4 linked regions of the Homo sapiens genome follow. The protein of the gene in region 2 interacts with the protein of the main gene of each other region in a pairwise test. Each region holds a gene or a part of one and is shown on either strand. Other genes may lie near its edges. The genes, in order: SNX20, TGFBR2, PTN and SNRNP35.

Region 1 (7,449 bases), on a different chromosome or scaffold from region 2:
GAGAGGCACACCTGGGACCGATACACTCTTGTTGAATTTCTCAAAGAAGGCGTACCAGTGTTGCAGTTCCAAGCATGTCAGGCATCCAGAGCGGTAGTGAGGGGTAGCTTCTAGTACTCAATTGTTTGCTCAATGTAGAATGCTTTGGTGGTAAAAGGACATCATTTAATTTCATGTTGCAATTAGGGAAGCCAAAAATCAGACAGGGTGGTGGCCTGCCCAGAATCACACAATGAGTCAGGGCTGAGCTGCAGCCACAGCCTCGGTGACCACTTCTCTGCATTCACCCCGCCATTCATTCATGCACACAATGACTTACTGAGCACCCACTATGTGGCAGGCACTGTGCTGGGTGCTAGAGACACAGATAATGATACAGACAAAGTCCCTGCCATTGTGGCATTTGAGACAGGAACTGCACAAGTATACAAATAAGCAAAACAAGGACAGATCTCGACAGAGGGGTCAGAAGAAGGCTGCATGGAGGAGCGAAAGTGAAGCTGCTGCTTCATGAGATGAGATGAGATGATGAGATGAGATGAGATGAGATGAGATGAGATGAGATGAGATGAGATGAGATGAGATAAGCCAGAGATGGAAAAACCAAGCGGAGGGTATTTCCAGCTGAAGGAACTGCGAAAACAAAGGCACGTTTGAGCAACAGAGAGCAGTCTGGGTTGGCTGGTGTGTGGTAGGTGACACTGGGAGTGGACCGAGTGACAAACGGTAAGCGGCAGATCATGGAAGCCTCAGCAGAGAGTTCGGATTTACTCTGAATGTGGTGGGAGGCCACTGAAGGGTCCAAATAAGATGGAGAGGTGCTCTGATTTTGAATTCTAGGAGAGGCATCAGATTCTGAGACACTACTAGTATTTCCCCTTTCTCACTCCTGGTGCCTCGTGGTGACCCTCCTCGCCATCTGGCTTCAGCGCTGCAATGGAGGATGCCCACTCCTGTGTCCCCCGCATGACGATGGGACCTTGTCTGCCTGTTATGAACTGAGTATGTGGCCTCCAAGTTCATATAGTTCATATATTGAATTCCTAATGAAAAAGGTGAGGCCTTTAAGAGGTAATTAGGCCATGAGGTTAGAGATCCCTGAGCACTCTCTAGCCCTCATTCTGCCATGGGAGGATAGAACAAGAAGGCAGCCATCTGCAAACCAGGAATCAAACCCTCCCCATATACTGAATCTGTTAACACGTTGATCTTGGCCTTCCCAGCCTCCAAAACTGTGGGAAAGAGATGTCTGTTGTTTAGGCCGCCCAGTCTGCGGTGTGTTGCTACAGCAGCCCAAGCTAAGACACTACCTATGCCTTCTGCCTCCACCACAGAGAACTCTGGCTGCAGAGAAAAAGCAACATCCAACAGGTGGCCATGCGTGGCATCTTCCGGTCACTCTGGCTCAGCTGGGTCCTACCGACATAGGCCAGGCCCCTCTCCATCAGGGGGTTTCCAAGAAACGTCTCCTTTCCCCATAAGAGGAAGTGGCGGCAACCACACATTTTTCCCCTGTGGTTGCCTTCTGCAGCATGAGAGGCTCACAGGGCTGCAGAGAAAGGCTTAGAGTCCACCCTGGTGTCTTGCAGATTCCAGGCCTGGGCAGAGAGTAGGCGAGAAAACTGGAAAGTTACGGGACACAACCCAGGGAGGAGAGGGCATTCCAGCCTCACTGTATGCAGGGAGCCACACCACCAGGCCCTCTGCTGGGCAGGGGGAGGCGGAGATGACCGACCTATGGCCCCTGCACTTACGGGGTGCCCCAGCTAGCAGGCCAGAGGCACACCACTCATGGCACTCCTCGTGAGCTCTGCCCAGAGACAGACCTTTGCAGATGTGGAGGTTCTTAATGACAGTGACGGCACTGCAGAGAGGTGGAATTGCAGGGCCATGTCAATAAGCAAGGTCAATAGGTAAACAGGGACATTATAGAGCCTCCAATGAAAAAGACAAGCAGCAACGGTTTTAGAATAGTAAGAACTGCCAGCACTTGTACAGCTCGGAACAGTGTTGTTCTAAGTGTTTGGCTCATCTGAACTCCTCTTGAGGTTCACAAGCCTATGAGCTTGTTGCAGAAGCAAATACAGGAGAAACCTTCATGCCCTCCAAGGATGACACTGGCTCAAGGCGGAATGTTTTGGCACTAGGAGGACTTCATTAAATTTCATGTTGCAATTAGGAAAGTTGAAATTCAACCATATCAAAGGACTAATATGGTTCTTTAAAGTTGACAACTTCTATTCGTCACAAAACTCCATTAAGAGAGTACAAAATGCAAACTGCAGGATGGAAAAGGATATTGAGAAGCACATAAACCCAAATGAATACATAAAGAACACCTACAAACCATTAAAAATAATCAAGTCAATAATGAGCAATGACCTTGAACAGACACTTCATTGGAGAAGGTATAAGGATGGCAAATAAGCCCATGAAAAGATGCTCAACATCATTAGTCCTTAGGGAAATGCAACTTAAAACCTTGATGAGAGACCACTGCACATTAATGCAGTGGTACACTGAAAAACACTGACCAAACCAGACACAGTGGCTCACATTGGTAATCTCAGTACTTTGGGAGCCCAAGGCAGGAGGATTGCTTGGGGCCAGGAGTTCAAGACCAGCCTGGGCAACATAGTGGCCATGATGGTCTATCCCTCCAGAAACAAAAAAAATTTATTAGCCAAGCATGGTGACGTAACTGTAGTCTTAGCCACTCAGGAGGCTGAGGTGGGAGGATCATTTGAGCCCAGGAGTTCTAGGTTGCAGTCAGCTATGATGGTACCATTGCACTCCAGCCTGGGTGATAGAGCAAGACCCCATCTTTAAAATAATTATAATAATGACCATATCAAGTGCAGGTAAGAAGGTGGAGCACCTGGAATTCTCATATACTGCTGGTGGGAATACAAAATGGCACAGCCACTGTGGAAAATATTTGGCGTAATCTAGCACAGTTGAAGCTATCTATACTCTGAGACCCAGCAATTTCACCTCAGATAAGTACATGGACTTGGATAAATGTGTAAGAATATCATCAGTGGCATTGATCATGATGGCCACCCTAGGAACAACCCAAGTGTGCATCAAAAGACAAAACAAAAAATGACAAATGGTGATGTATTTAAATAATGAAGCAACAGAAAACCAAACACAGCATGTTCTCACTCATAAGTGGGAGTTGAACAGTGAGAACACATGGACACAGGGAGGGGAACATCACACGCTGGGGCCTGTCAGGGGTGGGGGCCAGGGGGAAGGAGAGCATTAAGACAAATACCTAATGCATGCAGGGCTTAAAACCTAGATGATGGGTTGATAGGTACAGCAAACCACCACGGCACATATATACCTATGTAACAAACCTGCAGGTTCTACACTGGTATCCCAGAACTTAAAGTAAAATAAATAATAATAATAATGTAGCAACACAACAATGGAAATGAAAAAAAGTATCTACACAGAAATGCATCAGTGAATCTTATACCCATAAATGTTGCATGAAAGAAGCAAGGCACTGGAGAATACACACAGTATGCATGGTTCAATTTATATAAGATTCACAGATGAGTAAAATGAAACTGAATTGTTTGGGGATCTCATAGGTGGTAAATTTCTAAGGAAAAGCCAAGAAGTAACCCCCATCTGAATCAGGACTGTGACTGCCTCTAATAGGGAGGAAGGGAATCATGGCTCAAAAAAAAACACATGGCAAACTTCTGGGCGAGCCAGCAAAGTTCTATTTTTTTTTTTTTTGTCTGATTTCTGTTTCTTGCCTTCAAGGCCACAAAGATGGGTGGGCATGAATCACACCACACTGCCCTGGGGTTTCGCTTCCCTGGGACTTTCTGTTGGTGGTGATGGATACAGCTTTGCTCAGAGAAAAGGCACCAGATGGAACTGTAATTCTACCCCACTGCTCTTCTATGTCAGTCACTGGCTCTGTGTCCCACCAGCTCTGTGATCCAAGCCTCGGTTTTCCCATCTGTTCAAGGGGCATGACGGCCCCCATCATGCCTAGCTCATAGAGTAGAATAATGAATGTTAAAGGGCTCTGGGAGCTAATGCCTGAATTCCAGAGATCAACGGGGACTCGAAGGACAGCCAGACCTCTGCAAGGCGGCAGGGAAAGTGAGGCTGAGCTAAATCCCACAGGGCTGGCCCCACACCGCCTTGCCCTTCCCTGCGCTACCCGGAAGAAGAGGTGGGTACAGCTGGCAGGCTGGCAGTTGAGTTCAATATACCATGTTTCACCAGCCAATGGGCTGGGGCGATCAGAAGCAGGTCACACAGCCTGTTTCCTGTTTTCAAACGGGGAACTTAGAAAGTGGCAGCCCCTCGGCTTGTCGCCGGAGCTGAGAACCAAGAGCTCGAAGGGGCCATATGACACTCCTCCCGGACCCCTGGACACACACAGCCCTGGAGACTGGAGGTCAGTATTTGATCCCAAGCTCAGCTGTCCTCTGCCTGCTGTGGCCTGAGTCCCCTTCTCCTGGGGCCCTGCCTGGCACCTGCTGGGGGCAGGGTGGGAGGGGGAAGAGTTAGTGACAGCCACTGTGTCTGGAGCTCTCCTTAGCACACTGAGGCAGAGGAAGGGACAGCTCCTGGACCTTCCATCACCTCCATTCCTTTTGAAATGCTAGGCGCTTGTACAACCCATCTTGGGCCTGGAGAATAAGTCACCACACCTGTGTTTCTCAAAAGAACAGTGTCAGGGAACCCCTGCCTCAGCACAGCCTTAGAGGACTCATGGAAAATGCAGAATCCAGGCCTGTTCAATGGCACCTTCCTATGTTAGCAGCCAGGAAACCTGCTCTTGGACAAGCCCCTGGGATCCCACCCCCACCCCACCAGGGGATTCTTACACACACTGGGTTGGGAGCCCCTGGCTTTGGCAAGGCTTCTCAGGTGAGCGTCCAGTTGTTGGAGGGTACCCACCCTTTCCCCAAGAGAGGCAGCCACACATCCAACATCCTGGGATCTCTGTCTCCCAGCGTGGGCCATGTGCTTTATTTCACCCCCTAGAGGCTCATCCCCCATGAAAAGTCCTCCGCAGGCCCTCAGAAAGATAGTGTGGCCTCTGTGTGCCCAGCAGAAGAAGGACTGGACTTGGCAGTCAGCTCTTGGAGAGGGGGTGGTTAGGACACCTGGGGACAGGAGGAGGAGAATGACTGTCTGTGCACACACGGCTGGAAGGCAGAGGAGGCTGGGAAGCTGCTCTGTCCCCTGGGCCAACTACAGGCCCCCAGGCCAACAGCAACAACACTTTTAGTATTTTGTTATAAAGTCAAGAAATCTTTGCTACAGAGGGTGAGGAGAGGGAAGGAAAGGGCCATGGAACCGTCTATGTGGCTATCCCCAGAGAGCTTTTAGAGTGACAGGATTGCTTTCCCATTTCACAGATGAGGAAACTGAGGCCTGGAGAGGGATGGGAAGCTACCCAAGGCCCCATGGATACACCAGTGCACAACTCTTTCCTTCCCCCTCCTCTTTAAATGGGTGACTCCCAATGAAACCTGTAAGAGACAACCATAAGGGAGCTGACTGTGGCTGCTGAATTTGATTTTATTCTAAGGCCTGGTTTTATAATCAGCTTTCTCAGTCTTTACTGGAGTGTCAAGCCGAGGCATCATTTCTAGGGTCTTACAGGGTCTCTGGGCCAATAGTGCCCTGCTTCTGACCTGGAGCCAGCTGCCTGGTCATGAAAGCAGATCTGCAAAGGCTGGGGCCCCTGAGGCCAAGGCCACTCGCCATCACCCATTTTACAGAAGTGCTGAGCATAGGAGTGCCCTGGGCCCCCAAGAATCCCAGCCACCAAGAATCACGTAAACCATCCACTGTCTCACTTAGGCACCAGTCAGAATGTAGGGAACCCACCCCTAGTCATCCATCATCTTATCAACAGGACGGGGCTTGTAGCCACATTTATCAGGTAGGGAAACTGAAGCCTAGAGATATTAAAGCACTTGCTTAAGGACACACGGTTGGTCAGGATGGAAGGCGATGTCTCCTGACTCCCTGACAGGCACAAGAGACAAGCGAGAGGTGCCCGTGACGGCATGCTCAAGAACGTGCAGCCCTGGGCCAGCCAGGCCCCTGCTCCGTGCCTCTGTTTGCCCATCTGTAAAAGGTGAGGTTGGATCGAGGGTCCCTGAGGGCCGCCCACTGGATGGCTGTGCAGAGCCAAACGGAGAAGGCCCCAGGGTTCCTTTCACCCGACACAGCAAGCACTTCCCCCTGAAGTGCAGGCTCCAGGCCCCAGCTGACCTCCCCTCTCCCAGGCCAGCGGCTCTCACCCCTGGAGCAAGGGACAGGCGCTGGCTGTGCTCAGGGACATGCATGACTCCCGCCCCCATCTGTGCTCAGGGGGTGCCAGGGAGGCACTGGCTCTATCTTTCTCTAGGCCGTAGTCAGCCCAGGGGTTCAGACCAAGAGCCCAGAATCCAACAGATCAGAGTTCAAGTCCCAGCTCTACCTCTATGTTCCACTGGCAGCTTCCTCAGGTCATTTGCACCTTCCTTGTCTTGAATTTCCATGCCTAACCAGTCAGTATACCAGCTACTCCCTCCAGCCGATCTAATGTTTTAATTGTCCCTTTCTCTAAGTTGTCTCAAACATTTGTAATTCTATTCCAATCCACCTTAATTTAGTCATTTATTTCACAAATATTTCTGGAAACATCTAGCACTTAACAGACACTAAAAGCGGGGGTACTACACAGTCCCTGGGATGGACAGGGCCCTGAGCTGAGGCTTCAGAGTCTGCCTGACTGAATCCTCACCCCAGCCTTGTGAACGTGGGTTCTGTTATTATCCCCAATTTATAGGAAACAGAAGCACAGAGAAGTTGAGTCACTTGCCAGCTACCAGGTCATCCCTTCCACTTATCCGGGTCACAGACAGAGTTATTATGTAAACCAGATCCCAGCTGCCTGTTCTCCCTCCCTGAGTAAGGTGGAGAGAATTCTGAAGTCAGCCCAGCCTGGGTCTGTATCCTGCCCACCACTCACCAGCTCCTCATCTTTGGCAACTCTAAGTCTCAGTTCCCTTATCATAAAAGGGAGATGTAAACAGTCCTGAGTGCAGACAGTGTTCAGGTTAGTGCAAGAGTGTGTGCTGGGTGTGAAGTGCACAGCCAGCACGTCACAAGCACTGGAGACAAATTCAGCTTTGCTTGTTGCGCACACTCACCAGCTGCGTGACTTTAGACCTCAGTTTTCTCATCTGTTATGTGGTGGTAATGATAGACTTTTGTGAGCATTAAACTAGATTAGGGGCTATGGAGAACCTAGATGGGTATGAAGTGGGTATAATAAGCTATCAGTTAATTTTGCTGATAGATAGATTATTGATTGATTGATCGATAGAAGATTCATACCAGTATCTACCTGCTCTGAACACTGACCTTTCTTTTTTTCTTTTTGAGATGGTCTTGTTCTGTCACCCAGAC
Region 2 (7,408 bases):
CAAGTACTTATTTTACTTTCAATGTTCAAGGCATTGTGCTACATATCTTGGGTGACCATGTGGATGTAGATTTGGACTTCAGGGAGATTGCCTTCCACGATGCTTTTAATACAAAGAAACCAACACAACTACAGCTAGTATAGAGCAGAAAGGACTGAGTACAACCATAAGAGAGGGAAAAAATAGAGGTAAAGTACTAACAGTGCTTGAAACAAAGAAAAAACATTTGCTGGAAGAGAAATGAGGATTGATCCAGGAGGAAAAAATGTGCTGAACTGGGAAGGATTTGAAGATAGGAGGAGAAATGCTGTCCATTAGCAAAAATGCTCAGGCAGGACAGAGCAGAGTATGCTCAAGGCAGACTCCATACTTTGGCTAGATTCCCTAGACCAGTGTCCAGAGTACAGGGCTGTTTGAGATAAGAGCCAGGAGATATGGATCAAGAGGTAGGGTGAGGCCAGGCTCAAGGTAAAGGGGATCTAGCACTAGCTCTAACTTACCTGCCCACTGTTAGCCAGGTCATCCACAGACAGAGTAGGGTCCAGACGCAGGGAAAGCCCAAAGTCACACAGGCAGCAGGTTAGGTCGTTCTTCACGAGGATATTGGAGCTCTTGAGGTCCCTGTGCACGATGGGCATCTTGGGCCTCCCACATGGAGTGTGATCACTGTGGAGGTGAGCAATCCCCCGGGCGAGGGAGCTGCCCAGCTTGCGCAGGTCCTCCCAGCTGATGACATGCCGCGTCAGGTACTCCTGTAGGTTGCCCTTGGCGTGGAAGGCGGTGATCAGCCAGTATTGTTTCCCCAACTCCGTCTTCCGCTCCTCAGCCGTCAGGAACTGGAGTATGTTCTCATGCTTCAGATTGATGTCTGAGAAGATGTCCTTCTCTGTCTTCCAAGAGGCATACTCCTCATAGGGAAAGATCTTGACTGCCACTGTCTCAAACTGCTCTGAAGTGTTCTGCTTCAGCTTGGCCTTATAGACCTCAGCAAAGCGACCTTTCCCCACCAGGGTGTCCAGCTCAATGGGCAGCAGCTCTGTGTTGTGGTTGATGTTGTTGGCACACGTGGAGCTGATGTCAGAGCGGTCATCTTCCAGGATGATGGCACAGTGCTCGCTGAACTCCATGAGCTTCCGCGTCTTGCCGGTTTCCCAGGTTGAACTCAGCTTCTGCTGCCGGTTAACGCGGTAGCAGTAGAAGATGATGATGACAGATATGGCAACTCCCAGTGGTGGCAGGAGGCTGATGCCTGTCACTTGAAATATGACTAGCAACAAGTCAGGATTGCTGGTGTTATATTCTGATGGGGAAACAAAACAAGGAGAGAAGGAGTTGGATGTGGTAGGTAAGTACTGTCAGGAAGTGGGTTCATGCCTGAGCATCTATAGATTTTAGCATCTGCATAGTTTTTGTAGATACGATATTGTTAATTTTTATTTCAGGGATGCAAGTGCATGCTCGTTCAGCCTTCCCTGCCTCTGGCCATCTGTTCGTCATCCCCTGCTCTTCCTTCAAACTTCAGCTTAAATGTCACTGCTTAAGAGAGGCCTAGAAAAACTTGGAAAACTGTCTTATTTTATACATTTTCATAGCACCTTATACTTTTCCTAGGTAACAATTCAGTACAACTTAAACTAAATGAACTATGACTCTACCTCTTGATTTCACATCTGTCTTTCCCTACTCTTGCCATCCCCCACGGACAGGGAACTCCATGCTGGAAGGTACCATGTCTTCTTCACTACTGTAAACTGCACTTAGCACACAGCAGGTCCTCAATATTGCCAAATAAAAAGACAAACCATTTACTGAGTGTTATCTAAGCTCAGGACATTGGGAACATGAAAAAAAATGACACAGCTTCTGCCTTCAAAAAATCTGCATGTATGACATCTGGTAAAAACACAGAGCGTGCCACAGTTTGCACCAAAATCTTTGCTCTTTTTCAAACTCCAACTTGTTCTGCTCTGATCAGCATTCAGGCTACCCTGGGCCCATGGGTGACAGGGAGAGGAGTCCATGGAAAGGATCTCTTTGGACAGTTATCTTACATCCACCCAACATTCCTCTTTTCAGTGTGCATACGAATTGTAGTTTCATGGAACTGAAATATTTAATAGCAACAATGGAAACATGGCCGCAAAGGTAAAACAAGTTAAAAATGGAAATGCTGCAGTTTTTTGACTTGGAATTCTGAAGCAGGCCCCTGTGGGCTGACAAGGAGAGTCCTTAGCACCAGATATCTAACTATAATATCTTGTGCCTCAAACTTTGTTTCATGTGCTGGCCTTGTTGGCTCTGGTGAAATAGTTTTCCTTTTTGGAAGAAGGACATGAATAGAAACAGACAGTGGACAGGAGAGAGCAAAAGGCAGCTCTAGTTCACTGGGAGCTTGTGCTGGGCTGCTTTCATTGGGCAAACATGCAGAATTCTATTGCTTTATGTGTCATCCATCTGCCCTCCAAAGTACCCATTAATGAGCAGGCCTCATGCTCAGATCCTAGAATCATTCATTAAATATATCACTACTGAGTGTCTATGATGGGCATGGCACTGCCCTCAGAGAGTACCCAGTAGAGGACTTAGGGCATATATACAAGTAAGCAATATATGGCATCTGGGATAGGGGCTAAATGTACAATGTAATCTATATATTAGTGGAATGTGGAAAAGCTTAGAGAAACATGGAAGGCACAGTAGCAAAAAACTGCCTTTAAGTTGGTCTCTGAAGAATGGGAAAAGTCAGTGATGAGTGGAAAGAGTGCTATGTTAAGGAGAAAGAATATATGATCTACTTAAGGAAGAGCAATTATCCCATACTGACCACTCTGCACCTGCGGAATAGAAAGGAAAAAAATGGGTAGGTGGTATGGAACCAAACTCCGTGTCAGAAAAGGATCTTTTGATTATTCATTTGTCAGTTTTCACCTACAGTAGGTGTTTAAAGAGAAAAAAAAAAGTGATGAGAATATAGTCCAGGTAGAATGAGGATATAACCAAATTCTCTCAAGGGGAACCCATTACCTAAATGATACTGATAAAGGAGTTAAGAAGAAATTACTTGGGCAGATAGTAAGGGTATGGAAGTCCTCGGTAAGGTGTTTCTTTTTAATGAAAAGCAGCCCCAAATCATTTTCTAACAAAGAGCAGCCTGTAAAGTTGAGCTTCAGACATAGACAGGCAAGCTGGGAGCTTGCACGGGTGAATGCCAGCAGGAACTAAGGACATGTTCAAGATGGCAGCTCCATCTTCCCTTCTCTTTGTCAGCCATGTGTACAACAAAGAACAGACCAGATGGTGCTGATCAACTGGAAAGCCCATTTGCATAATAAGATTAGGGTGGGGTGACCAGTCTTCCCCATGCACTATGTAAACGTCATACCTGATTGAACCAATCTGTGAGCCCTATGTAAATCAGACACCGCCTCTTCAAACGGGACTATAAAATCCAGCACATTCACCACTGGCCCGTCCTTTCCGCTTGGAGACTCCTTTCTCTACAGAGAGAATTGTTTCTCTTTCTCTTCTCTTCTGCCTATTAAACCTCCACTCCTAAACTCCTCATGTGTGTTCATATCCTAAATTTTCCTGGCTCATGATGATGAACCCCAGGTTATATACCCCAGTCTACATAGCTACTTCAGCATCTGATACTTTCTTTTTTTTTTCTCGAGATGGAGTCTTGCTCTGTTACCCAGGCAGCAGTGCAATGGCACGATCTCTGCTCACTGCAACCTTGCCTCCTGGGTTCAAGCCATTCTCCTGCCTTAGCCTCTATGCCCAGCTTTTTTTTTTTTTTTTTTTTTTTTTTTTTTTGTATTTTTAGTGGAGACGGGGTTTCACCATGTTGGCCAGGCTGGTCTTGAACTCCTGACCTTGTGATCTGCCCGCCTTGGCCTCCAAAAGTGCTGGGATTACAGGCGTGAGCCACTGCGCTTGGCCCAGCATCTGAAACTTTCATCTAACGAAACAGTGAGAAATGAAGCTGGTACATATCCATTTTTAAGGTTTATGTGTAATATGATTACTTGTTCTTAAGGTAAGTCTGAGTGGAAATGCCAACTTCCACTGACTATATATTCTAGATGAAAATCTTGGGTCTAGTAACCAGAGAAGTAACCCCAAGATATCAGAATTCCAGCAACCAAGAGGGAAAAAAAAAATCACCATTTTTTGGAAAGATATATGAATGCATTTTAAAAGTATAGGGAAAGTGAGAAAATTTGGTGATTGATCCTTAAAAACATAAATTCTTACACTGGGAGGCTTGGATTGGGACAAAGAACAGGCAAGAGTAGGGCAGAAATGGGGTGGGACAAAGCAATTACAGAATGATTGAATGCAAAAGAAAAAAAAGATGCTCTTGTGGAGATGTATGGACTGTCCCTGTTGTACAGCAAACAAAATTAAGGGGGCAGATGAACACAACACAAATTCAAACACAACAGCCGATCCAGCAGTCGGCATTTCCACTTAGGCTTACCACTTCCACAATGCTCCCTGCCTGAAACTCCACCTCTATTATATGTGGTATCCAATGAATGTGTTTGCTTGAAGTACCCACTTGTCTCCGGTCTCTGTGTCTGTAACTACATGGAATGTCTTATAATCAGAAATCCACTTGATTATCTGATTGCTTCTCTCCTGACAAAGCAGGGTAGTGGCCAGGTCTGTTTTGATCATCATGATATACACAGCACCTGGGGCAGAATGGGGCAATTTATGGTATTCAACAAACGTTTGTTTTAGAAGCTGAATGATTACTTACGTGGAATGATACTTCTCAAATTTTTTATATTTTACAGCAAGGTTTGACAAACTATGGCTCAGAAGTCCATGGCCTGCTTTTGTATAGTCCTATGACCTAAGAATGATTTCCATCCCCATTTTTAAAGAGTTGTTTAAAAAACAATAAAACTAAGAGGTTCATGCAACAGAGATCTTATCTGGCCCAGAAAGCCTAAAATATTTACTATCTGGCCCTTCACAGAAAAACTTTGCTGACCCCTGTTCTAGAGGTGTTATTTTAATAACCTCATTGGCAGAATCTGGAGAGACTTCACTTTGGCCAAATGTGAATATGTAGTCAATTTTTTTTCACATATGAGAAATACAATTTGAAAAAATTTAAATATTAACTGCATAATTACTTAGCTTTGTCCTTAATTCACTAAAACGTCCAGATGAAATGTTGATTCATCATGGATAATTTTATTTTACAATTCCTAAATATCTATAAAAACAGTCGTATTTGCTAATTTCAATTCCTTTTTAGCCTAAAGGAAACACAAAAACAGAAATCCCCTTAAGTTTATGTGTGGCACTGACTGAAGAAGATTCTAGAAATCCCCAGTTCAATGTCAGAAACCAAAGTTTTACTTTCTCCTAAAATTTCCTGTTATTTCTTTAGAAGACTTACACTTAAAAAATTTGAGGGGGAGGAATTCTTGAATAACATCTGTCAATCTTGAAACTTCAAAGAGGTGGTGAAAAACTCTAACAATAGCAACCAGGGCTGGAAGGAAGCTTTGGGATGTGGCTTTATCTAAACAGGAGCCACCCACACCCTCTGGCAGTATTAACCCTTGGGTTGCTACTAGAAAACCCAACAGCTGTTGGTGTAGGTACAAGCCAGCATCTCCTTTAGTCGAAGACCAACAGGAAATGCTTCTTTTCATCAGCCGCCAGTTACAGAGAAACTCATAAACTGAACACTTACTAAGTTCCTGGCTGTGTGCTAAGGATTTTATAGAATATTTAAATTTAATTGATAGAAAAACCCTATGAGGTAGAAACTGCTATTATTATAAACCCCATTTTACAGATAGGGAAGCTAAAGATCAGACAGTTTAAGTAATTTTCCCAGATGATAAATTTAGGCAACAGCAAAGCTGGTATTTACAATGAGCATTGCCTGATTGGAGAGACTTCTGATCTCAACCCCATACCTGATCTCTAAACTTCATATTGGTGAGAGCCAACTAAGAATGGCAATGACCTTAGGCTGGGTGTGGTGGCTCACACCTGAAATCCTAGCACTTTGGCGGGAGAATCACTTGAGCCTAGGAGTTTGAGACTAGCCTGGGCAACATAGTGAGACTGTCTCTACACAAACTTAAAAAAAAAAAAAATTAGCCAGACACTGTGGTGCTTCCTGTAGTCCCAGCTATTACGGTGGCTGAGGCAGGAGGATTACTTTACTTGAGGCAGGAGTTCAAGGCGGCAGCACACTATGATCCTGCCACTGCATTCCAGCCTGGGTAACAGAGCAAGACCCTGTGTTTGTGCGGGCGGGGATGGGGGGGTAGGGGTTGCGGGGGAGGGGAAGAATGACTTTATATAAGCTCCCAATTTGATAAAGTGTTTTTCTTTAGTGTAGCCTGGACTAAGTGATTTTACAGCCATCCACCGACTGACATTGGCAATTCTTGTATAATGTGTCTAAAGGAGTATATTTTGGGTATGGGGATTATATTCCTTTGTTCTGAACTAAGAACCACAGTTTAGTAGTGTCTCTGTAAATATGCATCTTTTTCCTGCCAGGAAATAAAAAGTTTTATGTGAAGGAGAACCCCCAAATCTTTTTCTTTTCTCAGAGCCTATTCTCATGGCCTAGATCTTAGCAGAGCTCAAAACATAATTGTTGCACTATTGGGACCTTCCATGAATAGTAATAACATTGAACCAGATATAGCTCTGAAGGGCATTAAAAATAAGGGTGGAATTTATCCAAGGCCCATAAAAAAATGAGGCTATAATAGTAAACATTTTTAGCCTGGGTTCCATAAATAGAGTTCAGTGGGTCTGTGAATTTGAATGGGCAAAAATTGCATCTTTTTTTATTTTCTCTAACCTTTAATTAAAAATTAATATTTCCTAGTATCAGCTGTACCTATGAGTTTGTTGTTGCAGACGTCTCAGCATGTGACTTACGCTCACCATTTAGACATTTCAATTGTTTAGATCTGCTGCTATTGTTATTTAAAGCATTATTATAGAAACATATATTACTATAACACAAATTCATTTTTAAAATATTTGGTCATTGTATTTCAATGTAATTGGTTTTCTTTGAAATACTCCATGTTCTATTTTATGCATTTAAAAAACATCACAGTGAGAAGGGGTCCACAGGCTTCCCTACTTCAAGAAGTCCATGGCACAGACACACAAAAAGGGAAGCTCCCTTGGCAGAGTGAAGGCATTTGGGCTCTAGTCTCTTTTCCAGGACTTGCTAGAGCAGGAATTTTGAGATTGATGGGTTTCTCTAGGAAGTTGGTAACTAGTGCCAATGGGAGATCTGCCTGGCTTGATTTGTTGTGCTGCACATGGACAACTGTGGATGCTGTCGGAGCTTCTGTGGAGTGGGAAGGGAGCTCCGCAGTGTAGAATTTGAGGAGAAGCCCTC
Region 3 (7,408 bases), on a different chromosome or scaffold from region 2:
AGCAACACAAAACAGACTAAGATAGCTTCTATTTGTTCTAGCCTGAGTGAAGATTTTCTGTGTTACCTAAGACTGTTACCACAATATGTTCCTTATTAATTAAATCTGGACTCTGAAGCAAAAAGCCCTGGCTGTTTCTCTGGGCAGCCCCACCGTCTTCAAGGAAGTCACAAAGATGGATGATTCCTGGTCTAGTTCCATTATGGTATGGAAGGAAAGAGTCTAATGCAGTTATAGACGTTAAAATGTGAAAGAAGGGAAGACTCTTAACACTAAGTAAATATATTACATATATCTTTTTCATATTAAGAATGACTTTCTTCACAGAATTGGAAAAAACTACTTTAAAGTTCATATGGAACCAAAAAAGAGCCTGCATCGCCAAGTCAATTCTAAGCCAAAAGAACAAAGCTGGAGGCATCACGCTACCTGACTTCAAACTATACTACAAGCCTACAGTAACCAAAACAGCATGGTACTGGTACCAAAACAGAGATATAGATCAACGGAACAGAACAGAGCCCTCAGAAATAACACCACATATCTATAACTATCTGATCTTTGACAAACCTGAGAAAAACAAGCAATGGGGAAAGGATTCCCTATTTAATAAATGGTGCTGGGAAAACTGGCTAGCCATATGTAGAAAGCTGAAACTGGATCCCTTCCTTACACCTCATACAAAAATTAATTCAAGACGGATTAAAGACTTAAACGCTAGACCTAAAACCATAAAAACCCTAGAAGAAAACTTAGGCAATACCATTCAGGACATAGGCATGGGCAAGGACTTCATGTCTAAAACACCAAAAGCAATGGCAACAAAAGACAAAATTGACAAATGGGATCTAATTAAACTAAAGAGCTTCTGCACAGCAAAAGAAACTACCATCAGAGTGAACAGGCAACCCACAAAATGGGAGAAAATTTTCACAACCTACTCATCTGACAAAGGGCTAATATCCAGAATCTACAATGAACTCAAACAAATTTACAAGAAAATAACAAACAACCCCATCAAAAAGTGGGCGAAGGACATGAACAGACACTTCTCAAAAGAAGACATTTATGCAGCCAAAAAACACATGAAAAAATGCTCACCATCACTGGCCATCAGAGAAATGCAAATCAAAACCACAATGAGATACCATCTCACACCAGTTAGAATGGCAATCATTAAAAAGTCAGGAAACAACAGGTGCTGGAGAGGATGTGGAGAAATAGGAACACTTTTACACTGTTGATGGGACTGTAAACTAGTTCAACCATTGTGGAAGTCAGTGTGGCGATTCCTCAGGGATCTAGAACTAGAAATACCATTTGACCCAGCCATCCCATTACTGGGTATATACCCAAAGGACTATAAATCATGCTGCTATAAAGACACATGCACATGTATGTTTATCGCGGCACTATTCACAATAGCAAAGACTTGGAACCAATCCAAATGTCCAACAATGATAGACTGGATTAAGAAAATGTGGCAAATATATACCATGGAATACTATGCAGCCATAAAAAATGATGAGTTCATGTCCTTTGTAGGGACATGGATGAAATTGGAAATCATCATTCTCAGTAAACTATCGCAAGGACAAAAAACCAAACACTACATGTTCTCACTCATAGGTGAGAATTGAACAATGGGAACACATGGACACAGGAAGGGGAACATCACACTCTGGGGACTGTTGTGGGGTGGGGGGAGGGGGGAGGGATGGCATTAGGAGATATACCTAATGCTAAATGACGAGTTGATGGGTGCAGCACACCAGCATGGCACATGTATACATATGCAACTAACCTGCACATTGTGCACATGTACCCTAAAACTTAAAGTATAATAATAATAAAAAAAAAAGAATGAAGTTTTCTAAACACTTTTCATTAGCTTTTAAAGCAAATGAAGAAGGCAACATTTGGATCACTTACACCCTCTCCGAGAAAGACCCCAGCAGAAGCACTGGTAAGGAGGCCCAAGTGCAACATCTGGCCAGGGGCTTTTTACACTTAAGGGAACTTCAGTGAAGTCAATAGCAAATCAGGTGGTGTCTGCAATTTTCTTTCATAAATAATCATACATTGTAAATATTATTTGGTCACAAAGATGTAAGTTTTAGAAGCTTTTGCATATAACATATTGACAATGATCCTCATCATTTTTATTAAGCTATGGACATCATGACTGGAGCATTCTGATTTGTCTCCTGTTCCCTCAAGTTTGTTGAATTAAACTGTTGTGGCTTGCTACTCAAAGAGAGGTCGCCAAGCTAGCAGTACTGCAGTCACCTGGGAGCTTGGCAGAAAAGCAGACTCTGAGATTTCATTGGAGACCTACTGAATTTTGGCAAAGACCCTGGGTGACTGGTATGAACATGAAAGTTTGAGAAGCACAGTTATCCAGCTATCATGTAAATGAACTGCTGTTAGCCAATTACTAAGGCTTATATTTAGTGAGAATAACCAATTAAAAAATGTGACATGTAGCTTTTAAGACACTTCAGAAGGAAATATAACATAATCTGAGGTAAAAGAAAGCATGCCTGTTTCAGTTCAGCCTCATTTAAGATGTCTTCTCGCTTTTTTTTTTTTTTTTTAGTATGACTCATTTCTTTTTCTTCATTCCTGTCGCACATCTTACCTCCTCCTCACTTTGTGAGTCAAACTTACCTTCAAGCAACTTAGGCAATCTCTGTGTGTCCTGAGAAAATGACAATGACAATAGCAGGATTGGGAAACCAGAAAGGCAGAACTTGCCCCACTGACTTTATTAAGTTCAGTTCATGTTCAGTATAACAGTTTAGAGCTTACAGATGTTGCGTCGTGACCATTGACATTTACCACCAACCTATGAGGTTGGCAAAACAAGTAACATCATCATCATTTCCCACTTAGAGCTAAAAAACCTAAGATTTCAGAAGATTCAGTGGCACATCCAGCAGCCCATACCAAACAACAGGCGGACTGTGGTGAGATGCTGGTTCCTGACTCCAAACCTTAACTCCTTCCCTGGACTGAAGCCTCTATCAGCAGGGGTCAGAGAGAATGTGGTTATGAGCATCACTAAGGTCAGCAATAAAGTGCCTGTCTCTTGGATTGGGAGTCTTCTGTATGCAAAATGCTCTCCTATACCTTATGGGAAGGGATAAGGTCAAAGAGTCTGCATCGGAGACTTTGCCTGCCCAACCCCCAGGCCTTGAGCATGATCACATGCTCCGTATGTTTTCTTCCAGAAGAAAGGATTTTCAATCTGCATTTAGAGAGAAGGAAGAAAATGGTATGAGCATGTGGAGGGGCGAGGCCTTTCAAGAAGCATGGAATTCCACCTAGGATTTTGCTTGTATGTTTGTTGCAGATGCCAAGTGGGCATGAGAAAGAAAAGCAATTCAGGAGGGGGAAGAAGTGAGGACTTGCATCTGGTGCTGCTTCACCATGATCATCATTTTCACCATCCTGCTCAAACACTCCCAGCAATCAGACTCTATGTTCAGTACTTCACATTGATTTTCTCAATTACTACTCAGACGTCAATCCTGGAAGGTAGGTATGTGCTCCCATGTTAGAGATGAAAACACTGAAGTAAGAAAGACCACAATATTTGCTCACGGTCACAGAGCTACTAAGAAGTGCAGTGGTTTATACCTCAGTATTTTGGACCTTGGAGCTCAAATATTGAGCGATTAAGGCTACTGTTTCTAATGTTTCATCCGTATCCACATGCCCTGTCGTATGTCCAGGGTCCTTGATTCCACCTCTTAAATCAGAACTGCTGAAGATGGGCTCCAGGCAGCTGGAACCTACACATGACGCTAGTTAATCTGATAAACATTGAAGACAGGGAACTGCTGCTGTAGGTTATTTGACCTCTAACTGTACATACATTGGATTTGGGGTTTGACATGAGAGACAAATGGGAGATAAAATCTATTTATTAGCCTAAGAAAGAGATGGCATTATATTACAGAGGAATAAACTCAAACTAGGAATTTTAAGACTTTTGTTTTCATATCTGTATGTCATTGAATATGGCCCCCTTAACTTCTCTAAGCCTGCATTTCTGTATCAATTTTTTAAAAATCCCACTCAATCTACCTGAGTAGAGTTACAAAAATATGATGAAAAAATAAATGTGAAACATTTTTAAAAACAGGCCTTATAGCTACATAGAAGTTATAATGAAAATAATGCTTCAAATTACTAGCTTTGTCACTTTGAATAATATGGTTTGTTAAAGAAGAGGTAAGTAAGGTTTTCTCCATTCTGGAGGTAGTCTTGAATCGGCAACTATGAAAAGTTTAAAATTATCAAGGTGAAATATGATTAGGAAGACACTGTAGAGAACCAGCAAGCCTATATGACATTTGTAATGAAGGGAGTGAAGGAAAGAGAGTGGGAGAAGTTTCTGGAGGTTCAAAGTTGAGAATGGGAATGCTTGGGCTTAAACAGGAAATTGGCACCAGGTTGTTTGGTAAGGCAAGGGGATTAGGCATAGAACACAGATGGTCAAGGTGGGTGGAACAACATGGGCAAAGAGAATGAATGGCATTTAGAGCTGCCTATTTTCTCACTCATTTGCCATCTTCAATGGTTCTATGCTAAATATGCTAGGGTTCTTGAGAGAATGAGAGACAGCCCTTGCCTTAATAGGGTGCACAGGTTGGATGGGGTGGGGCTGGTGTCAAATGGTGAGAAAGGAGGAGCTGAAGTCACTATAAGGGGTGATGGGGAGACTTCGAAGACAAGGGAAGAAATATAGCTCCACCTAGAGGGGGCATTTGCCTTGGAAAACCTTTGGTGCCTTCAATTTCCGACTCAAGATTTCACCCAAATTCCACAGCTGAAGTACAAGGATTTGCCTTCTTTCCCTTCATGTATATGTTTTCATTAAAGGACACTCTTCTCTTCTGGTATAAATTTTCCTGAAAAGGACATCTACAGGGAGTGCCATGTCTTAAAAATTATATTGATTCTAAATAAACTCAGTCTGAATTCTTAAGTTGTCACTTCCAATAATTTGTTTCTGCTACGTTATGTGGCAAATGTGAAATGAAAACACGAAGGAATCAGGAGTTCAATTTCCCTTCCAGAATAAACAGCATTAAAGGAACAAACAGACATAATGCTTTTGAAATAGACGTTGCGTACCATTTAGCCTTTTGTGAGCTCCACTTTCCTTTTTCTCATAAAAATGTGATCCCTTTGTCATTGGAACTGCTTAGGGCAACAATTGTACATATCTTCCTCTAACCTGTGTTGTAGTAATTAGTGTTTTAATGTTCTTACATATATATTGAGTAGATCATTAGCTGCTTGAAGACATATTTATTTGTCCTGTTTCCCTCATCACACTACCTACCATATAGTATGTCAGTCACTATGCGTAAAAGTCTGGTAGGGATAAAAATAAAATAACAGGAAGTCCTTTACTTCAATCTCCTCCTCCAAATAGAATTGTGCCTGAATGATTTCCTTCAGTATTCATTGAAAAAATATTAAAAATGTGAGTCCAGAGCTCATTAGAGAGAATCTTCCTTCAATTCTCTTCAGATCTGAGAATTTTCCTTGTGAAGGAGTTAAAGCTCAAAGAAGAGTTGTGACAATACTAAAGCATTTGGAGAGGAGAGAGGAAGGCGGGAAACTGAAATATTTGGAAATAAATGTACACATTTGGAAGACAAGAAAAAAAAAAGCAAAACAAAACATGAAAAAAGGAGTGCCCAAAGAAATTAGGAAAACATTAAGACAATAACATATCAAGGAGGTTACAGTATGAGATAATCATAAAATGTTGGGATTAGCAATCTGTGACTTTTAAAGCATCTTTTCCAGAGATGGGTGAGGGTATAATGGATTTTAATTGAGATCTCCTTTAAATACATTTCTAATAAAGAATTTCACAAGTTCACACCACGTACCAAACACAAAGTATTAGATATTGTGAAACCATAGAGATAGACACCATGTTCTATTTCTTAAACATGCTACATTGTCCAGCACAATGTAGTATTAGGCATCCAACATACGTACAATAAATATTGTTAAATTGGCTGGCCACAGGAGCAAGAAAAATTGTATTGTTGGAGTAGGACCCCGAGACGATGTGATGGACATGAGTAACTCCAGCTGCGCCTCTACATTGATGTTGGGAAACTGAGAAGAGAATGAGGTCAACATTGCAGTGATGAAAATGTTGCCTGACCCTTAGGCAGGGTCTTGAATCAAAAAAAAAAAAAAAAATGGGGGAAAAATGCCATTGAATCAGTAGAGAGGGCACTGGTGTTGAAAACATCAGCTAGGAAGGTCCAAGCTTCCAAGAATGCCAACATATGGGCAGGCATTCCTGGTACATCCGTACATAGAGAAATGTATGCCATCATAGCAAGAGGGAATTGGGCAAGACGTTCTGGGACCTGTTGGGTGGGAAATAGTGGCAACCAAATTAATGGAGAAATGAGAGAAAAGAAGGAGAAATAGGTAAATGTAAAAGCAGGAAGAAAAGGGAGCAAAGGGTTAGAGACAGAATGCTATTTGTGTTTTAAAATTATGTTTTAGCTTTTGCTAAGAGCAATTCTTAGAATTAAGAGCCCAATTATCAGTTACTATGAGTCACTTTTTTCAAGATTAATATACAGCGCTTGATTTTTTGTTACACTATGTGTGAAGTTGAAAAAAATCTAAGACTTCTATTTTTAGAAAACTGGATATGATTTTTTTCTGTTTGAGATATCACTTTATCTCAACCCACTCTGAAAAAATGGTTCAATAAATAAAGCCTAGAAAAATGAATTAAATTTTATCCCTAAAAATATCTCAAACATGAAGGAGTCATTGTATTCCTTGTCCACCCTGAAGAAATAGAGATTTGTGGTGAATGTGATCTACATAATTAAGTCCACAATATTCCCATATTTATAATACCCTCTGATAGTGTTCCATCATAGCTACCCTTTTAAGATACTGTTTTAATTTCTTATTTACTAAATGCCAAAATAGAAAGAAAAAGAGGTTTGTTATATTTTACAATCTAGAAATATTGTAATGACACCATGAAAACTATGCCGCACACTAGACTGGCTTGAAGTGGATGGAAAAATAGCCCAGTGGGTGGAAACTTGAATTGTCCATAAACATCAGAAGGAAAAACAACTTTCCACGAGGCCATGGCCCAAATTCCACTTAAGCCAATTGACTCTGGATGGAAAAAAGCAAGCCCAGCTCATAAAAAGAAGGTTCATATCTGAGTATCATCTTACTTCGCCTCCCACAGCAGTGACATGACCTTGTGCCAGAAGGAGGCAAAAACTCTTCGACTATTCATTTAGAACAGAAGCCAGAGCTAAAAACATTCCTCACCCTTATGGAGAAGCCCAACTCAACATCACTAGCAAAGCTATGGAACAAAGGCCAT
Region 4 (8,241 bases), on a different chromosome or scaffold from region 2:
AATATATATAAATATATATAAATATATATATATTTATATGGTAGCCACTAGCCACATGAGGCTATTAAGTGCTGGAAATGAGGCTGGTACAACTGAGAAGCTAAGCCTGTATTTATTTATTTAAAACTTTAAGTTTTTTGTAGACATGGGATTTTGCTAAGTTTCCCAGGCTGGTCTTGAATGCCTGCACTCAAGTGATCCTCCTGCTTTGGCGTGAGCCACCGTGCCTGGTCTAATTCTTTTTTTTGTTTTGTTTTTCTGTAGAAATGAGTTCTCACTATGTTGCCTAGGCATGCTCTACTTTCTGGGGAGAGGAGTTATCTCCATAAGTTATTTGCAATTTTGCGTGGAAGATTTGCCTCTTCTCCCCACTTTATTTATTCAATCACTTATTTATATCAGTAGGGACTGGTGGATATTTATTTATTTATTTTGAGATGGAGTTTCGCTCTTGTTATCCAGGCTGGAGTGCAATGGCGGGATCTCGGCTCACTGCAACCTCCGCCTTCCGGGTTCAAGTGATTCTCCTGCCTCAGCCTTCTGAGTAGCTGGGATTACAGGTGCCCGCCACCACGCCCTGCTAATTTTGTATTTTTAGTAGAGACGGGGTTTCTCCATGTTGGTCAGGCTGGTCTTGAACTCCCGACCTCAGATGATCCGCCTGCCTTGGTTTCCCAATGTGCTGGGATTACAGGCATGAGCCACTGTGCCTGGCATTTTTTTTTGTTTTGTTTTTCCTGAGACGGAGTTTCGCTTTTGTCGCTCAGGCTGGAGTGCAGTGGCACGATCTCTGCTCACTGCAACTCCCTGCTCCCCGGTTCAGGCGATTCTCCTGCCTCAGCCTCCTGAGTAGCTGAGATTACAGGCACCCTCCACCACGCCCGGCTAATTTTTTGTATTTTTAGTAGAGACAGGGTTTCATCATGTTGGCCAGTCTGGCCTCGAACTCCTGACCTCACATGATCCACCCTCCTTGGCCTCCCAAAGTGCAGGGATTACAGGTGGGAGCCACCGCACCTGGCCTGATATTTATTTTATTATTATTATTTTTTGAGACACAGTCTCACTCTGTTGCCCAGACTGGAGTGCAGTGGCGCAATCTCTGCTTACTGCAACCTCTGCCTCCCAGGTTCAAGCGATTCTCCTGCCTCAGCCCTGTGAGTAGCTGGAATTAACAGGCGACTGCCACCATGCCCGGCTAAGTTTTGTATTTTTAGTAGAGACGGGGTTTCACCATGTTAGCCAGGCTGGTCTCAAACTCCTTGAGATCAGGGTGGTCCGTCTGCCTCGGCCTCCCAAAGTGCTGGGATTACAGACGTGAACCACCGTGCCTGGCGGATATTTATTTTATGTTTTGGGTTATAATCCAGTACCACTTAATTTACAGTATTTTGTTGCTCATACTGTTTCCACTCTGGCCATTAGGAGTCCTTTCAGTTGGTTCAGCACTCCCTGTGACATCATCATCATTGGTGGGGTGTTTCATTTTTAGCACTACCTTACTTTCTGGTACTACAAGTTGCTTCAAGATCATCTTGTGTATTTCTATTTATTTATTTATTTACTGAGACAGAGTCTCGCTCTGTTGCCCAGGCTGGAGTGCAGTGGCGCGATCTCAGCTCCCTGCAACCTCTGCCTCACAGGTTCAAGCGATTCTCCTGCCTCAGCCTCCCGATTAGCTGGGATTACAGGTGCCTGCCACCACGCCTGGCTAATTTTTGTATTTTTAGTAGAGACGGGGTTTTGCCATGTTGGCCAGGCTGGTCTCAAACTCCTGACCTCAGGTGATCCGCGCCCACCTCGGCCTCCCAAAGTGTGGGATTACAGGTGTGAGCCACCGCACCTGGCCTATTTATTTATGTTTTGAAACAGAGTCTTGCTCTGTCGTCCAGGCTGGAGTGCAGTGGGGCAATCTCTGCTCATCACAACCTCAGCCTCCTGGGTTCTAGTGATCCTTGCACCTCAGGGTCCCAAGTAGCTGGGACCACAGGCGTGTGCCATCACACCTGGCTAATTTTTGTATTTTTATTAGATACCCGGTTTTGCCATATTGCCTAGGCTTGTCTTGGACTCCTGACCTCAAGCGATCTGCCTGCCTCGGCCTCCCAAAGTGCTGGGATTACAGGCGTGAGCCACCATGACTGGGCGAATTTTTTATTTTTTATTTTTTTGAGACAGGGTCTCGTTCCAGCTGGAGTGTGATAGCACCATCTCAGTTTACTGCAGCCTCAAGCTCCTGGGCTCAAGCGATCCTCCCACCTCAGCCTCCTGAGATGCTGGGAGTACAGGCGTGCACCATCAGGCCTGGCTAATTTTATACTTTTTGTAGAGACGGGGTTTCACCATGTTGCCCAGACTGGTCTTGAACTCCTGAGTTCAAGTGATCCACCCGCCTCAGCCTCCCAAAGTGCTGGAATTACAGGTGTGAGCCACTGCACCCAGGCTTCTTGTGTATTTTTTTGTCCCAGTTCTAGAGTCAGCTATTTCTCCAAGGAGCACTGGTTACTTTCATTGGAGAATGATATCAGAAACCAAGATCCGGGTGCTAGGTTATGCTTATTGCTACCAGGGTACACAGACATTTTAATGTATGTGTAACATAAAATTTACCTTTTCCACTGTACTTTCATTTATTTATTTATTTATTTTTGAGACGGAGTTTGCTCTGTCGCCCAGGCTGGAGTGCAGTGGCGTGATCTTGGCTCACTGCAACCTCCGCCTCCTGGGTTCAAGTGATTCTCCTGCCTCAGCTTCCTGAGTAGCTGGGATTACAGGCACGCGCTATGACACCTGGCTAATTTTTGTATTTTTAGTAGAGATGGGGTTTCACCATGTTGGCGTGGCTGGTCTTGAACTTCTGGCCTCAAGTAATCTGCCTTCCTTGGTCTCCCAAAGTGCTGAGATTATAGGCGTAAGCCAACGTGCCTGGTTCTTTTTTTTTTTTTTTTTTTTTTTTTTGAGATGCAGTCTCGCTGTGTCGCCTAGGCTGGAGTACCATGGCGCAATCTCGGCTCACTGCAACCTCTGACTCCCAGGTTCAAGCTATTCTCCTGCCTCAGCCTCCCAAGTAGCTGGGATTACAGGTGCCCGCCAGCACACCCAGCTAATTTTTGTATTTTTAGTAGAGATGCGGTTTCACTATGTTGGCCAGGCTGGTCTTGATCTCCTCACCTCGTGATCCTCCCAACTTGGCCTCCCAGTGTGCTGGGATTACAGGCCTTAGCCTCCTCGCCCGGCCAGTCTGTTTTAACTATTAAATAACATTAGGTAGATTCACATTGTTGTGAAACCATCTGTACTATCTATTTCCAGAACTTCTTCATCATCTCAAATTGAACCTCTGTATCTGTTAAACAATACCTCGCCATCTTCCTAACACCCACAGCAGCCCCTGATAACCACTGCTGTACTTTCCAACCATGAATTTGACTATCCTAGGTCCCTCATATAAGTGGAACCATACAGTATTTGTCCTTATGCTTCTTTCACTTAGCATGGTTCATCCATGAACTACGTTCATTCATGATGTTGTAGCAATTAGAATTTCATTTCTTTTTAAGGAGAAATAGTATTCCATTGCATGTACTGTACATACCACGTGTGTGTGTGTGTGTGTGTGTGTGTGTGTGTGTGTGTGTGTGTGTGTGTGTTTAAAAGCATAGGGGTCAGCCAGGTGTGGTGGCTCACGCCTGTAATCCCAGCACTTTGGGAGGCCAAGGCAGGCAGATCACTTGAGATCGGGAGTTCAAGACCAGCCTGACCAACATGGAGAAACCCCATCTCTACTAAAAATACAAAATTAGCCGGGCATGGTGGCACATGCCTGTAATCCCAGCTACTCGGAAGGCTGTCAGGAGAATTGCTTGAACCTGGGAGGCGGAGGTTGCGGTCAGCCGAGATCGTGCCATTGCACTCCAATATGGGCAACAAGAGTGAAACTCTGTCTCAAACAAAACAAAACAAAAACAAACAAACAAACAACAACATAGGGGTCTTGCTCTGTTGCCCAGGCTGACAGGCTGAACTTGAACTCCTGGCCTCAAGCCTCACGACTCAGCCTCCCTAGTAGCTGAAACTGCAGATGGCCTCCACTGACAGTGGCTACCATATATTTTCAAACATAAAATTTTAAGCTATAGATTTTTCTTTTTTTTGAGACGGACTTTCACTCTTGTTGTTCAGGCTGGAGTGCAATGGCACCATCTCAGTTCATCGAAACCTCTGCCTCCCGGGTTCAAGTGATTCTCCTGCCTCAGCCTCCTGAGTGGCTGGGATTACAGGCACATGACACCATGTCCAGCTAATTTTGTATTTTTAGTAGAGAAGGGGTTTCTCCATGTTGCTCAGGCTGGTCTCGAACTCCGAACCTCAGGTGATCCGCCCGCCTCGGCCTCCCGAAGTGCTGGGATTACAGGCGTGAGGCATGCCACCTGGCCTTTTTTTTTTTTTTTTTTTTTATAAAGAAATTGGGGCCGGGCGCGATGGCTCACGCCTGTAATCCCAGCACTTTGGGAGGCCGAGGCGGGCGGATCACTTGAGGTCAGAAGTTCGAGACCAGCCTGGCCAACATGGCAAAACCCTGTCTCTACTAAAAATACAAAAAATAGCCGGGCGTGGTGGCGGGCGCCAGTAATCCCAGCTACGCGGGAGGCTGAGGCAGGAAAATCACTTGAACCCGGGAGGCGGAGGTTGCAGTGAGCCGAGTTCGCACCACTGCACTCCAGCCTGGGCGACAGAGGGAGTCTCCGTCTCAAGAAAAAATAATAAATAAGAATAAATAAATAATAAAGTAAAATGTCCCAGGTAACTGCATATTCGATAGTCTTTCTTTCAACTTAGTTGTTGAATTAGCAATTTTTCTCTTAAAAAAATTTTTTTTTAGCTTATTGTCTTCGGAGATGATAACACCCTCGTTGCGTGGGAGTAAAATTTTAAAGGTAAAACAAACAGGAAACGAGCGTCGGCGGCGAATCTGCTGCTACCAATGTAAAGGTCAGGCCGAGGCCGGCGCGGAGAATCTGCTGTCGCCTGCAGCTGCTCGCCTGTCTCCGTCGGAAGGGAGCCCAAGCTTTGCAGAGGTGAGTGGAAGCGGCTTGGAAGGAGCGGGCCCCACGCCGGAGAGAAGGAAGAGGGAGTGCGGCCCAGACGCTGTGCCCGCGCTTGTGTGGGGCGCCATGTTGAAACCTGGCAAAGGGGACGACATTCTGGGTTGCGTTGCGGGGAGTGGGGACGAGAGCTGGATTGGAAGGATGGCGCCTTACTCCCTGCGGCCCCCAGAGAAGGAGAGGGGCGGGGGAGCGGCCTCGAGGGTTGGCGGCCAGGCTGCAGGCTGGATGGGAAGGATAGGCTTTTCCACAGAAACTTAGGTGTTTGCCTCCGAGGCCCACTGCGCATGCCCTGGAGGGCTCTGTGGGTTCCGCCTTCAGTTTTGCTTTTCACAGGAGGGGCAAAGTCTTTTTTTTTTTTTTTTCCTTTTTGAGACAGTCTTGCTCTGTCGCCCGGGCTGGAGTGCAGTGGTGCGATCTCGGTTCACTGCAACCTCCGCCTCCTGGGTTCAAGCGATTCCACTGCCTCAGCTTCCCGAGTAGCTGAGACTACAGGCGCCCGCCACCACGCCCTGCTAATTTTTTGTATTTTACTGGAGACGGGGTTTCACCATGTTAGCCAGGATGGTCTCGATCTCCTGTCCTCGTGATCCACCCGCCTCGGCCTCCCAAAGTGCTGGGATTACAGCCGTCAGCCACCGTGCCCGGCCAGGAGGGGCAGAGTCTTACCCCGAAGACCCAGGAAGGAGAGGCTTCATTTATTTTTTTGTTTTTCCCCAGAGACAGGGAGTCGCCCAGGCTGGAGAGCGGTGGCGCGATCTCGGCTCACTGCAGCGTCGACATTTCGGGTCAAGCAGTCCTCCCGCCTCAGCCTCTCAAGTATCTGGGACCACAGGCGCGACCCCACGCCCGGAGAATTGATTATTGATTGATTGATTGAAACGGGGTCTCACTTTGTTGCCCAGGCTGGTCTCGAATTTCTGGGCTCAAGCGATCCTCCAGCCTCGGCCTCTCAAAGTGCTGGTATTACAGGCGTGAGCCAGCGCGTGCCTGGCCAAAAATTTTCTAAATTTGTATAATAATTTATAATTGTAATGCATTTTTATAGACACCATATGATCTAATCTTCACAAAAACCTAGTGAAGTGACATTTAGCTACATTTCACAATAAGAATCCTGAAGCTCAAAATTTACTGACCTCAAATAATCCACCCGCCTTGGCCTCCCAAAGTGCTGGGATTACAGGCATGAGCCACCGCGCCCTGGCCCCCACCATTCATTTCGGCTCTCATCCCCTGTTGATGAGTAAAATGAGAATGAGGCCCAGGCGCGGTGGTTCACGCCTGTAATCCCAGCACTTTGGGAGGCTGAGGCAGGCGGGTCATCTGACATCAGGAGTTTGAGACCAGCTTGGCCAACATGGTGAAATCCTGTCTGTACTAAAAATGCAAAAATTAGCTGGGCGTGGTGGTGTGTGTCTGTAATCCCAGCTACTCGGGAGGCTGAGGCAGGAGAATCACTTGAACCTGGGAGGCAGAGGTTGCAGTGAGCCGAGATTGGCCATTGCACTCCAGCCTGGGTGACAGAGTGAGACTTTGTCTCGAGTAAAAAAAGAGAATGTAAAAATCGAAAGAGATTGTTGTAGGAAATCTCAACCTAATGCTGCCGGGGAGGAAGTGCACCTAGAAAGATTAATGAGAAACAATGAAACCAGCTGTTAGTATCTATAGAAGCATGCAGATGAGAGAGAGAACAAAATCCATGCTTATCCGTTTGTAATTCTCCTCCATTTTAATTTGAAGAAGTCTTAAAGTTTTGAACAGGAGCTCTGTGTACAATAATATCAGTTTTATTTGGTAGATCCTTGTGACTCCTGACTTCAAATGATCCGCTCATCTTGGCCTCCTCAAGTGCTAGGATTGCTGGCGTGAGCCACTGCACCGGGCCCCTTGTGACTTTTTAACGTTGAATGGGGAGGGGTTCTTTTCCTTCAGGAGAGGAGGGGTGGGTCTCAGCCTCAGACACCCAGAATACTGGTTTGTGTGTTTTCTTTTTCCTATCTTTATCTCCAAAACCTTATATTTTATGAAAAGCATCAGAGGAAACGATTAAGAGCTTTAGCTCTGGAGTCCACACTGCCCCTGGTTCTAACTCCTCCACTGGGCTACTTCTTAGCTTTAGGATTTGGGGCACAGGCTGCCTTTTTGTGTCTGACCTTTTTCATCTGAAAAGGCAATAATAATATAGTACCTAAGTCCTGGTATTGTTGAGAAGTGAGAGGAGTTAAGAGGTTAGTACAGGCTGGGTTCGCTGGCTCACATGTGTAATCCCAGCACTTTGGGAGGCTGAGGCAGAAGGATAGCTCATGCCCAGGAGTTCAAGATCAGCCTATGCAATATAGTGAGACCCCATCTCTACAAAAAAAAAAAAAAAAAAAAAAGCTGGGTATGGTGGCGCATAGTGAGTAATTCCAGGTACTCAGGAGGCTAGGGTGGGAGAGGCTGCAGTGAGCCATGACTGTGCCACTGTACTCCAGTCTGGGCAACAGAGCAAGACCCTGTCTCAAAAAAAATTCAAGCGATTCTCCTGCCTCAGCCTTCTGTAGCTGGGATTACAGGCATGCACCACCATGCCTGGGTAATTTTGTATTTTCAATAGAGACGGGGTTACTCCATGTTGGTCAGGCTAGTCTCGAACTCCCGACTTCAGGCAATCTGCCCACTTTTGCCTCCCAAAGTGCTGGGATTCAGGCGTGAGCTACTGCGCCTGGCCTTTTTTTTTTTTTTTTTTTTTTTTTTAAAAACAGAGACAGGGTCTCACCATGTTTCCCATGTTGCCCAGGCTAGTCTCGAACTCCTGGGCTCAAGGGATCCTCCCATTTTGGCCTCTCAAAGTGCTGGGATTACAGGCGTGAGCCACCACGCCCAGCCTCTTCTTTCTTTTTTTTTTGAGACGGAGTCTCGCTCTGTCGCCCAGGCTGGAGTGCAATGGCGGGATCTCAGCTCACTGCAAGCTCTGCCTCCCGGGTTCACGCCATTCTCCTGCCTCAGCCTCCCGAGTAGCTGGGACTACAGGCGCCCACCACTACGCCTGGCTAATTTTTTTTTTTTTTTTTGTATTTTTAGTAGAGACGGGGTTTCACTGTGTTAGCCAGGATGGTCTCAATCTCCTGACCTCGTGATCTGCCCGCCTCGG

What was found.
Region 1: the proteins of TGFBR2 (region 2) and SNX20 interact in binary tests that used the Homo sapiens proteins (3 or more experiments, as listed by UniProt).
Region 3: the proteins of TGFBR2 (region 2) and PTN interact in binary tests that used the Homo sapiens proteins (3 or more experiments, as listed by UniProt).
Region 4: the proteins of TGFBR2 (region 2) and SNRNP35 interact in binary tests that used the Homo sapiens proteins (3 or more experiments, as listed by UniProt).

The regions. Positions count from the first base shown.
Region 1 is NC_000016.10:50,678,173-50,685,621, reverse strand, and holds the start of SNX20 (sorting nexin-20), read left to right. Parts: upstream 1-4,309; 5' UTR 4,310-4,432; intron 4,433-7,449.
Region 2 is NC_000003.12:30,665,530-30,672,937, reverse strand, and holds part of TGFBR2 (TGF-beta receptor type-2 isoform B precursor), read right to left. Parts: intron 1,301-7,408; coding exon 501-1,300; intron 1-500. UniProt on the Homo sapiens protein: Transmembrane serine/threonine kinase forming with the TGF-beta type I serine/threonine kinase receptor, TGFBR1, the non-promiscuous receptor for the TGF-beta cytokines TGFB1, TGFB2 and TGFB3.
Region 3 is NC_000007.14:137,333,349-137,340,756, forward strand, and holds part of PTN (pleiotrophin isoform 1 precursor), read right to left. Parts: intron 1-7,408.
Region 4 is NC_000012.12:123,453,139-123,461,379, forward strand, and holds the start of SNRNP35 (U11/U12 small nuclear ribonucleoprotein 35 kDa protein), read left to right. Parts: upstream 1-5,000; 5' UTR 5,001-5,078; intron 5,079-6,565; exon of another isoform or gene 6,566-6,750; coding exon of another isoform or gene 6,751-6,762; intron 6,763-8,241.